Regions from separate parts of the Homo sapiens genome. Here region 1 is linked to region 2. The links come from fine-mapping of genetic effects on plasma protein levels. Region 2 holds a variant in brackets. A gene starts in the other region. All regions are shown on their forward strands.

Region 1 (5,328 bases), not on the chromosome of region 2:
GGGGAGGGCATCTTTTCTTGACAGAGCAGAAGTGGGAGGCAGACAGCTATCACTTTCCAGAAGACTTTCTTTTCTGATTCATACCCTTCACCTTCCCTGTGTTTACTGTCTGATATATGCAAAGGCCAAGTCACTTTCCAGAGATGACAACTCCTTCCTGAAGTAGAGACATGCTTCCAACACTCAGAAGCCTATGTGAACACTCAGCCAGCAAAGCTGGGAAGTTTTTCTCTGTGACCATGGGCTAATTGGTCTCCTTCTCTGGATTGTGGCTTTATCAGATAAAAACAAGTGGTCATGCCACAGGATGTCTATAAGCCCATTGATTCTGGGATTCTATGAGTGATGCTGATATGACTAAGCCAGGAGAGACTTATTTAAAGATCTCAGCATCTTTCAGCTTGTTAACCTAGAGAAAACCCGAAGCATGACTGGATTATAAAGGGAAATTGAATGCGGTCCACCAAGTTCATGGTAAAGGATGCACTAACTGATTAGAGAGAGGTTTCCCCTGATATGAGGAAAACTTCTTGGAAGATGAGGTGAGATGGCCTAGGAAGAAATTCCTACACAAAGTTGCACAGTCTCTAGTCCTGGAAACATTTTATTCATTGGATAAGAATGGATTGAGGCATGAGCAGAGGACTGAGACAAACACAGAGAAGTTTCAACACTGGTTGGGGAGAAAAGGAGTAACTAGTGAGATTCAGGCAGAACAAGAATAAGGCTCCTCAAGAGGCACAAGCAAAGCAGGGCTCGAGTTGATTTGTTCTCTCTTCATCCTGCTTTTTGTAATTCCACCAGAGTCTGAAATGGCCACTCCATAGAGTCTCTGCTCTGGGATTCTCCAGGAAACCAATATCCATCATGAGACATCAAGTCTAGTCCCAGGAAGAAGAGATTCTGGAATGGAAACATCCTGGGTGGGAGTCTCAGCACATCTACTATTCTGTCTGAGTTACTGGACAAATAACTTCAGTTTTAACCTAACGAAAGCTGGGTTGGTTGGAGGACTGGGCAGGCAGCGCTGGAAAGTATGTCAGCACCATACCTGACTCCCTGAATGCACTCAACAATGCCATTACTGACCACTTACTAGAAATAAAACAGTCATTTGTTGAATACAACCCGTTTCTTTTTACAAGTGTAGTGAAAAGTGTTTTCTTTCAAGAAACCCCATGCATTTATAGACATTGCCTCAGTGACCCTTTATGAAAGAAGTCACTAGTCTTTGTATGCCCATTGGGCAAGGGCACCGCAAGGCTCAGAAGGAGGAGGCAGTGGGCTAGGAGAATCGAGAGATCAGAATTTTAAACTCAGCCCAGCCATTAACATGCCTCAAGTACTCCTATCATATTTGTAAGAGACAACAGTTCACTGAAATGAATTCTAAGGTCTTTGGGTTTTTATCAGTGTGCTTCTGTAGTTTCTGAGGAAATCTAAGGCACAACTGAGGAATGAAGTCAGGCTTTCCAATTCCCGAAATACTCCTCCACTGCTTACTCATGTCCCTTGGAAATTAAGAAGGAAGCCAGGAGAATAGCTGCCATAACCAGGGATGAACTTCTTGTCCACTGCTGCCTGCTATGCTAGCAACAGCCTCCTAACTCATAATGACTTAGCCATGAGGAATGTTTCTAGATTCTCCTTTAGCTGTCTGCCCATTTGGAAGATGCTGAGGACAGAGAGAGGACCCAAGCAGGCAACTAGTTGGAGGACTTGTACACGTTTCCTTCCAGCAGTATGTCAGAGAGGTGGCAGCCCACTGGGGACAGGGCTGCCTGGGTTCTGTGCTCGAGGGGACCTTGAGCAGGCTATTTAACCCTTCTGTGCCTCAGTTGCCTGATCTATAACATGAAAATTAGCAATCCCTACTAGATAAAGTTGGGGAATTTACAGAGTTAATATTTGTAAAGGTCTGAGAATATTCCTGGCAGAGTAAGCACTCTGTGAGTATGACACTGGCATTTCTTCTGCAGCACTACATGCTGTCTATGCCTTTGTCCAAGTCTGAAACCCTAGAACTCTTAGAATTCAGTTCAATGTTTACACAATCCTACAGTTCTGCTAGGCTTCTATGATGCTACTATTCTGCATTTGAATGAGCAAATGGATTTAATGCATTGTCAGGGAGCCGGCCAAAGCTTGAGAGCTCCTTCCTGGCTGGGAGGCCCCTTGGAATGTGGCCTGAAGGTAAGCTGGCAGCGAGCCTGACATGCTTTCATCTAGTTTCCTCGCTTCCTTCCTTTTCTGCAGTTTTCGCTTCAGAGAAAGCAGAATCCTTAAAAATAACCCTCTTAGTTCACATCTGTGGTCAGTCTGGGCTTAATGGCACCCCATCCTCCCCATTTGCTCATTTGGTCTCAGCAGTGAATGGAAAAAGTGTCTCGTCCTGACCCCCTGCTTCCCTTTCCTACTTCCTGGAAATCCACAGGATGCTGCATTTGCTCAGCAGATTTAACAGCCCACTTATCACTCATGGAAGATCCCTCCTCCTGCTTGACTCCGCCCTCTCTCCCTCTGCCCGCTTTCAATAAGAGGCAGAGACAGCAGCCAGAGGAACCGAGAGGCTGAGACTAACCCAGAAACATCCAATTCTCAAACTGAAGCTCGCACTCTCGCCTCCAGCATGAAAGTCTCTGCCGCCCTTCTGTGCCTGCTGCTCATAGCAGCCACCTTCATTCCCCAAGGGCTCGCTCAGCCAGGTAAGGCCCCCTCTTCTTCTCCTTGAACCACATTGTCTTCTCTCTGAGTTATCATGGACCATCCAAGCAGACGTGGTACCCACAGTCTTGCTTTAACGCTACTTTTCCAAGATAAGGTGACTCAGAAAAGGACAAGGGGTGAGCCCAACCACACAGCTGCTGCTCGGCAGAGCCTGAACTAGAATTCCAGCTGTGAACCCCAAATCCAGCTCCTTCCAGGATTCCAGCTCTGGGAACACACTCAGCGCAGTTACTCCCCCAGCTGCTTCCAGCAGAGTTTGGGGATCAGGGTAATCAAAGAGAGGGTGGGTGTGTAGGCTGTTTCCAGACACGCTGGAGACCCAGAATCTGGTCTGTGCTTCATTCACCTTAGCTTCCAGAGACGGTGACTCTGCAGAGGTAATGAGTATCAGGGAAACTCATGACCAGGCATAGCCTATTCAGAGTCTAAAAGGAGGCTCATAGTGGGGCTCCCCAGCTGATCTTCCCTGGTGCTGATCATCTGGATTATTGGTCCGTCTTAATGACACTTGTAGGCATTATCTAGCTTTAACAGCTCCTCCTTCTCTCTGTCCATTATCAATGTTATATACCCATTTTACAGCATAGGAAACTGAGTCATTGGGTCAAAGATCACATTCTAGCTCTGAGGTATAGGCAGAAGCACTGGGATTTAATGAGCTCTTTGTCTTCTCCTGCCTGCCTTTTGCTTTTTCCTCATGACTCTTTTCTGCTCTTAAGATCAGAATAATCCAGTTCATCCTAAAATGCTTTTTCTTTGTGGTTTATTTTCCAGATGCAATCAATGCCCCAGTCACCTGCTGTTATAACTTCACCAATAGGAAGATCTCAGTGCAGAGGCTCGCGAGCTATAGAAGAATCACCAGCAGCAAGTGTCCCAAAGAAGCTGTGATGTGAGTTCAGCACACCAACCTTCCCTGGCCTGAAGTTCTTCCTTGTGGAGCAAGGGACAAGCCTCATAAACCTAGAGTCAGAGAGTGCACTATTTAACTTAATGTACAAAGGTTCCCAATGGGAAAACTGAGGCACCAAGGGAAAAAGTGAACCCCAACATCACTCTCCACCTGGGTGCCTATTCAGAACACCCCAATTTCTTTAGCTTGAAGTCAGGATGGCTCCACCTGGACACCTATAGGAGCAGTTTGCCCTGGGTTCCCTCCTTCCACCTGCGTTCCTCCTCTAGCTCCCATGGCAGCCCTTTGGTGCAGAATGGGCTGCACTTCTAGACCAAAACTGCAAAGGAACTTCATCTAACTCTGTCCTCCCTCCCCACAGCTTCAAGACCATTGTGGCCAAGGAGATCTGTGCTGACCCCAAGCAGAAGTGGGTTCAGGATTCCATGGACCACCTGGACAAGCAAACCCAAACTCCGAAGACTTGAACACTCACTCCACAACCCAAGAATCTGCAGCTAACTTATTTTCCCCTAGCTTTCCCCAGACACCCTGTTTTATTTTATTATAATGAATTTTGTTTGTTGATGTGAAACATTATGCCTTAAGTAATGTTAATTCTTATTTAAGTTATTGATGTTTTAAGTTTATCTTTCATGGTACTAGTGTTTTTTAGATACAGAGACTTGGGGAAATTGCTTTTCCTCTTGAACCACAGTTCTACCCCTGGGATGTTTTGAGGGTCTTTGCAAGAATCATTAATACAAAGAATTTTTTTTAACATTCCAATGCATTGCTAAAATATTATTGTGGAAATGAATATTTTGTAACTATTACACCAAATAAATATATTTTTGTACAAAACCTGACTTCCAGTGTTTTCTTGAAGGAAATTACAAAGCTGAGAGTATGAGCTTGGTGGTGACAAAGGAACATGATTTCAGAGGGTGGGGCTTACATTTTGAAGGAATGGGAAAGTGGATTGGCCCCGGTCTTCTCCACTGGGTGGTCTCCTCTGAGTCTCCGTAGAAGAATCTTTATGGCAGGCCAGTTAGGCATTAAAGCACCACCCTTCCAGTCTTCAACATAAGCAGCCCAGAGTCCAATGACCCTGGTCACCCATTTAGCAAGAGCCCAACCCCCATTCCTTTTCTCACAGACCCTGACCCCTGCATGCAATTCTTCCCTTAACATATTGCAACTGCCCCCTAACTGGGCTACCCACCCCCCAATCTGTACCTCTCCAATTAATACCCCAACCTGGAGTAATACAGACACTGCCAGTATTAGGAAATAAGGAAAGAGTTAATCACCATAGATAAGATGATTAGATTGAAGTTTCATAGAGATGATGAGACCTGAACTTATTATTTATGAATGAAGAAGGCTTTTCTAGGAAAATTATAGGATCATTAAGAAAGGAGAAGGAAGAGTGGGAGCAAATACCTGGAGGTAGAAATGGTGATGATGTGTACATCAAGCAGGGAGAAAACCAATGAACCAGATGCGAATTCGGGCCCACACCAATGTCAAGGGATGACAATTAGAAAGGAAGGTTGAGTCAAGGGATTTGAATGTTAGGGTGAAAAGTTACTACTCAACTCTGTAGGTTAAAAGGAAACGTTGAGAATCTTCAGTCCAATGAGGAGGGATGTGCCATGTTTAGAGATTCAGAGATAAGTTTCAGGAAATGTAACTTATAGATTTTA
Region 2 (5,377 bases):
TATACATACATTATATTGCAATAAGTTGTTTAAAACAACAACAGATCCCATACATGGTAAACTCCTTATCTTAGATCATGATCCTGGATGCTGAGGTGAAGATTCGTGTGCAAGGAATATATTAAGGAAATGTGCTGAGAAAAAAAAACAGCATAGGAGTCAGAGAAGCAGGACAGAGAGGGAGGAGGCCAAGTAAGAGCGTGGTCCCAGGCAGAGCCCTTAGGGTAGCCCTTATCCCATGAGTGGACGCTGGACTCAGGAGCATTAGGTTATGCCTCAGAGTCTATTCTGACACAAGACAAGGAAGTTGGAGAGATTCCTTCTGGCTCTGTGGGCAAAACCACTCCAGTAGTCAGAGGGCAGGTCTTGATAGAATCATAGGTGCAAGCAGCTGGAAGCAAAAAACATGGAAACAGAAAGGGGTGCATAGGAAAGGTAAGAAGGACTCCACAGGGTCCAGCAGAGCCCCACCAATATCCATGACACTCTCCTTCTATAAGGAGGACTCATTCTTTTCTGTAATGAAGTCACAATATGCAAGTTTTCTTCAGATTTTCTTTATTAAAGAGAAGTGTAGAATTAAAGCAGAGGTGTCCTGACATAAAATTCAACTCCTGAATTTTGGACATGGGCCTCTGGAGTGGAATGGAAAGCCTGGAGTGAACAGAAATACTCCACCACCCACCCCTCAGGCCACCTGGTCCTATGTAACCCCTCATGCCACATCAACGGACCTCCAGGAAGGCAGCAGGCAGAGTGGTTAGGGCTGGGTACTAATCTGATAGAGCTGGATTCCAGGACAAGCCCCACCATTTTTTGCTTGTGTGATCTTGGGCCCGTTGCTTAACAAACTCACCTCAGTGCCTCCTCTGTGAACTGGTAAAAAGAAATGCACTCATCTCCCAGGGTCACTGAAGAGTTTGAACAAGACAGGGTACCTAAAGCCCTTAGCAGAGGGCCCAGCCCCCTCTGACGATGTAAATGCAGCCCCTCCATCTACCTCCTCGCCCCGTCCTCCGGATCACTGTCCTAGTTCATGAGCCTGGGTGCATTAAAGTCATCTTTATCGGTGTTAAGGACCGAGGCACTTTTCCTCCACCCTCCACACTGGCCCTCTGATCTTTTCCAGGGCAGGGACCTAGGCACATGTTTTTATTCATTCAGGATTTGTGCTGCTCAAAACAGATTTTGATCCGTTTTTTGTTTGTTTTGTTTTTTGTTTGTGTTTTTGAAGGTGTCTCGCTCTGTCGTCCAGGCTGGAGTGCAGTGGCGCGATCTTGGCTCACTGCAACCTCTGCCTCCCGGGTTCAAACGATTCTCTTGCCTCAGCCTCCCGAGTAGCTGGGATTACAGGCACACACCATCACACCCAGCTAATTTTTGTATTTTTAGTAGAGAAGGGGTTTCACCATGTTGGCCAGGATAGTCTCGATCTCTTAACCTCATGATCTGCCCTCCTTGGCCTCCCAGAGTGCTGGGATTACAGGCATAAGCCACTGTGCCAGGCCCAGATTTTGACAAGTTTTAAAAGTGCCCAGATTAATCTTGTGGATGAGATGCAAAACAGCACTCCATATGGAAATGGGCTGTGCACCCCTCCCTACATGACTTTCTGAGAATCCTGATCGCCACTGCAGTTTATAGAAGGCTCCAAAACACTTTATTACTCAGGTGTGAACAAAGCAGAGATTACATCTTCCCACAATAAGAAATATTTCTGGTTGTTACTTGTAGGAAAAGGAGCGGTTAGCTTCAATATCTATTATCTATCTATCTGTATTAGTCAACGAGCACAAAGTTTCAGTTACAGAAGATGAATAAGTCCTAGAGATGTACTGAACAGCATGGTGCCTCTAGCTAACAACACTGCATCGTATACTTAAAAATGTGCCAAGAGGGTAGATCTTACGTTAAAGTAATAATCTTGATAAATAGGACAGGAGGAAACTTTTGAAGTGATAGTTGTGTTTATGGTATAGATTATGATGAGGGTTTCACAGGGGTATATTTCTCTCCAAACTCATCAAGTTGTATAGATTAAATATGCACAGCTTTTTGTATATTATACTTCAATAAAGTGGTTTTTAAAAAAGATCCATTATTCATCCACCCCTCTTATCTTGTTTCAGGAGAAACAAGATCTATTGATCTATCCCATCTCTTTCCCTGCCCCAATGTCTCTCTTGCATTTCCAGGGGCCCATGTGACAGTGTGAGGTACCATGGAAATAAGAACTTCACATATTTTACTTGGGTAACATTATATGAATTTGTTCCTGTTTATTGGAAGTGCATTGTTTTTGCATTTAATTAGGAAGTATTTTCCATATCCTGGGGAGAAAAATGTATTTTCTGCATAATTTCTAAATCATTGTTCAATTTTTTTCTTCATCGTCATATTTATTTACTGAGTTTGATACTAGATTTTTGATGTTCTTATAAAAAAATGAAAATGAGCAAAATGAAACACACAGAATGGTTAGAGGAACAAGCAACAACACAATCCCTCAC[G/A]GGAATGCCCTGAAGGAATATGTTGAAGCTAATTTGAACATGAAGGTTACGTCTGTCCAGATCTCTAAAAGCAGCCACCAAGCAGGTTTTACACAGGGAAAGATTTTGTTGGAAAAGCACCTGGGAGGGAAAGTGGGCTGGAGCAGGAAGGGCTGGGAAAGCCGGCAGAACCCCAGTGAGGTAGCAGGGGAACCAAGCGGTAGTAGACGCATCCTAGACTGTTCTGCAGCCTGAGGAAGGTTTGGCATAGCCACGTGGGGGTCCTTAAGCTAATGTCAGTGCATCTCTAGGGATTGGGCCTGCCTCAGTATCCCTGTGTGCTCAGTCATTGGAAGCACAACATTGATTTCAGAGCCTGCAGAGGGGTCTTAGGCTTTCTGGAGTGGGAGGGGCATGTTCATGGCTGCACCGGTGGTTTGCCCCATCCTTGGTGCCATTCTGGATGTGATGTTGCACTGATGGTAAATATCAAGGCCCAGATCAATGCTAGACTCTTGTTCACCTGTTATCTTGAAATCACAGGTGGCCCACCACCTCCCCCAATAGCACAGCTTCCACGTTCTCACTCCTGTCTCTTTTGTAGAATAGGCTATCTATCAGGGGAATAATCCTTTTTTGTGTTTTTCTAGATGAAGTCTTGCTCTGTTGCCCAGGCTGGAGTGCAGTGGCACAATCTCGGCTCACTGCAACCTCTACTTCCTGATTTCAAGCAATTCTCCTGCCTCAGTCTCCCGAGTAGCTGGGATTATAGGCACACGCCACCACGCCTGGCTAATTTTTGTATTTTTCGTAGAGACGGGGTTTCACCATGTTGGCCAGGCTGGTCTCGAACTCCTGACCTCGTGATCCACGTGTCTCAGCCTCCCAAAGTGCTGGGATTACTGGCGTGAGCCACTGCACCCGGCCCATAGTCCTTTTTGTAAAGCTTTCACAGGAGGGTGACGTGCTGTCAGTGGAGGGAACACAGAAATACACAGGATTGCCAACGTGCTAGAGAGGGGCCCTGCTGGCTACAAAAGTCCTTCCACTAACTTCACTAGAAAAGTGACAGTAAACACAAGTCTGGCTGGAGCCCCACATTTCTGGCCCTGGTGCCCGGGAAGGAAGGTGGGTGCATTAAAGGAAGCTTTGCACTTCTCCCTGCTGCTCTGGCAATCGTTTCCGTTCACATGCTCAAGGTTGTGGCTTGACCTATGCTCTCCTGCAAAATATTGCTGACCCTTTCCTATTTCTGAGGTTCTTTGCTTTTCCCCTCCCATGTTCCCATACTCCTAAGCTATCTTCTGCGTGTGTTGTTGTTGTTTTGGCTCTTTTTTCCCGCCCCCCAGAAATGTGTCTGCTTCAGTGTAATGTGGCAGTGAGAATCTGGGAGATTGGAAGACATTTGTGTTTGGTTGGGTTTTCCCACACACCTCTGTTTTTCCTGTGAGCTAAGAACCCCAAAAGAAGCATCAAAAATTTCTTTCCCGTGGTAGGAAAAGCCAGGACAGAACGAGCCATTCTGGACCTTGGGGAAACCACTTTGTGTTCTGGTTTCCTTCAGGTTTGATGCCATCCTCACCTTTGGCTGAAGGGCAACAGGCAACTCTTCTTCAGACGGCAGTACCATGCCGGAAAACAGAGCACCATGTGGCTAGCCCAAGCTCTGGGGTAGAGCCAGCTCTGCCCTTCACTCTCTGTGGCTTTTGCCAAGTCCCTCATTGAGTCTCAGCTTCCCCATCTGCAACACAGGGGTAAGGTAGCAGGGTTGCAAGAGCATCCTGCCACCTCCTGGGCTGCAATGGATACCCCGTCAAGGTAAGACAATGGACAGGGGGCAGTATGCCCTTGTAGTGCCTGTGCATGCATCAGGCCGGCACTGCTCAGAGTGCTCCTGAGGCATCCTGACCTTGAGAGATGTTAACACTTGTCATTTGAAAAGTATTTTTTTTCTAAGTTAAAGATAGGTTTGAGAAATGCTGGATTAGGAAGGTTTCAAACAGATTCATCACTACAGGACTTCTCAGGGGCCTTTAATGCACTGTGAATCTCCAGGAGTGTTTTCTAACAGTGCATGCTTTTATCCTAAGAGACATTAAATGTATTGGGATGGATTCATTGGTTTAATCAATGGGTAGTTCATGAGAAGCTTCAACCTGAAAGGCCTGAGGGCTCTTGATACCCAAGAAAGCCCAGGGGAGATCCTTGACATCTGTGAAACATCAGATCCAAGATCTCCCAGAGTGACCACATACCCTTTCAGAGTCCACTTGGGCTCCAGATGTTATCTGGAGCCATATTTCTACCAAGAATTTATGTGGTTGTGCTTATCCTCACATAAATTAAGCCTCGTTTTAACATTCTATAAAGCTTAGTCTTGCAATTGATGAGCACTCATTGCCCTAACTGGAGCACCCCACAAAATACCCCCTGATTTCCCTTGTTTTTATGTGGAACACACAGTAGAGTCACTCCCATGAAGATCTGAGTCACTGCTGAATTCCATATTCCTGTCGATAATTTATCCCAAATTTATGTTTTCTGCCCCAGAACCACTGCTTTTTAAGATTTCTTTATTATGGCTTTCCTTCCACCACCATCACCAGCATTTAGCTTGTTTTATGAAGAAATGAAGCTCTTTGGTTGTTTAAATCACTTCTGGGGAATTCTAAGGCTACAGTGAGTGGTGAGGATGGAGTTGACCAGGTCCACTCACCAGGTGGAGGGCTCACGCCCATGCATAGCCCCCATTCCCACATCCCACTCCCTTTCTCCTGAAGGGAGCTCAAAGGGTCTACATCTGGCTTCTCTCCACCCCTCTACTGGAGGTGGAGTGGCTTTTAAATTGGTCAGATTTGGAAAGAATAGCTGGGAAGCCTTAGCCCAGC

Direction of the effects. Positions count from the first base shown, and alleles are read on the strand shown. Strength reflects both the effect of a copy and how common the allele is.
In carriers of allele G in region 2, the plasma level of the protein whose gene starts at base 2,565 in region 1 tends to be lower than with A alone (weak association).

Evidence for each region. PIP is the chance, under the fine-mapping model, that this variant and not a neighbour inherited with it causes the effect. Protein levels are from antibody-based Olink assays in UK Biobank. Linkage for the fine-mapping came from a reference panel and not from the study's own genotypes, which makes the PIPs less certain.
Region 1: CCL2 starts here. The variant in region 2 is fine-mapped to the plasma level of the CCL2 protein (UK Biobank, PIP above 0.99).

What each region holds. Positions count from the first base shown.
Region 1 is chr17:34,252,721-34,258,048 of GRCh38, forward strand. CCL2 (C-C motif chemokine ligand 2) reads left to right here and starts at 2,565. Exons shown (of 3, transcript NM_002982.4): 1 at 2,565-2,705; 2 at 3,502-3,619; 3 at 4,002-4,483. The coding sequence starts at 2,630. The coding sequence ends at 4,107. RefSeq lists enhancers at 1-343, 1,287-2,261, 2,262-3,236.
Region 2 is chr3:46,229,715-46,235,091 of GRCh38, forward strand. It overlaps a transcript of CCR3 not described here. Among named protein-coding and RNA genes, the nearest start is that of CCR3, 10 kb to the right of the region's middle. The variant G/A (reference allele first, on the strand shown) is at 2,511.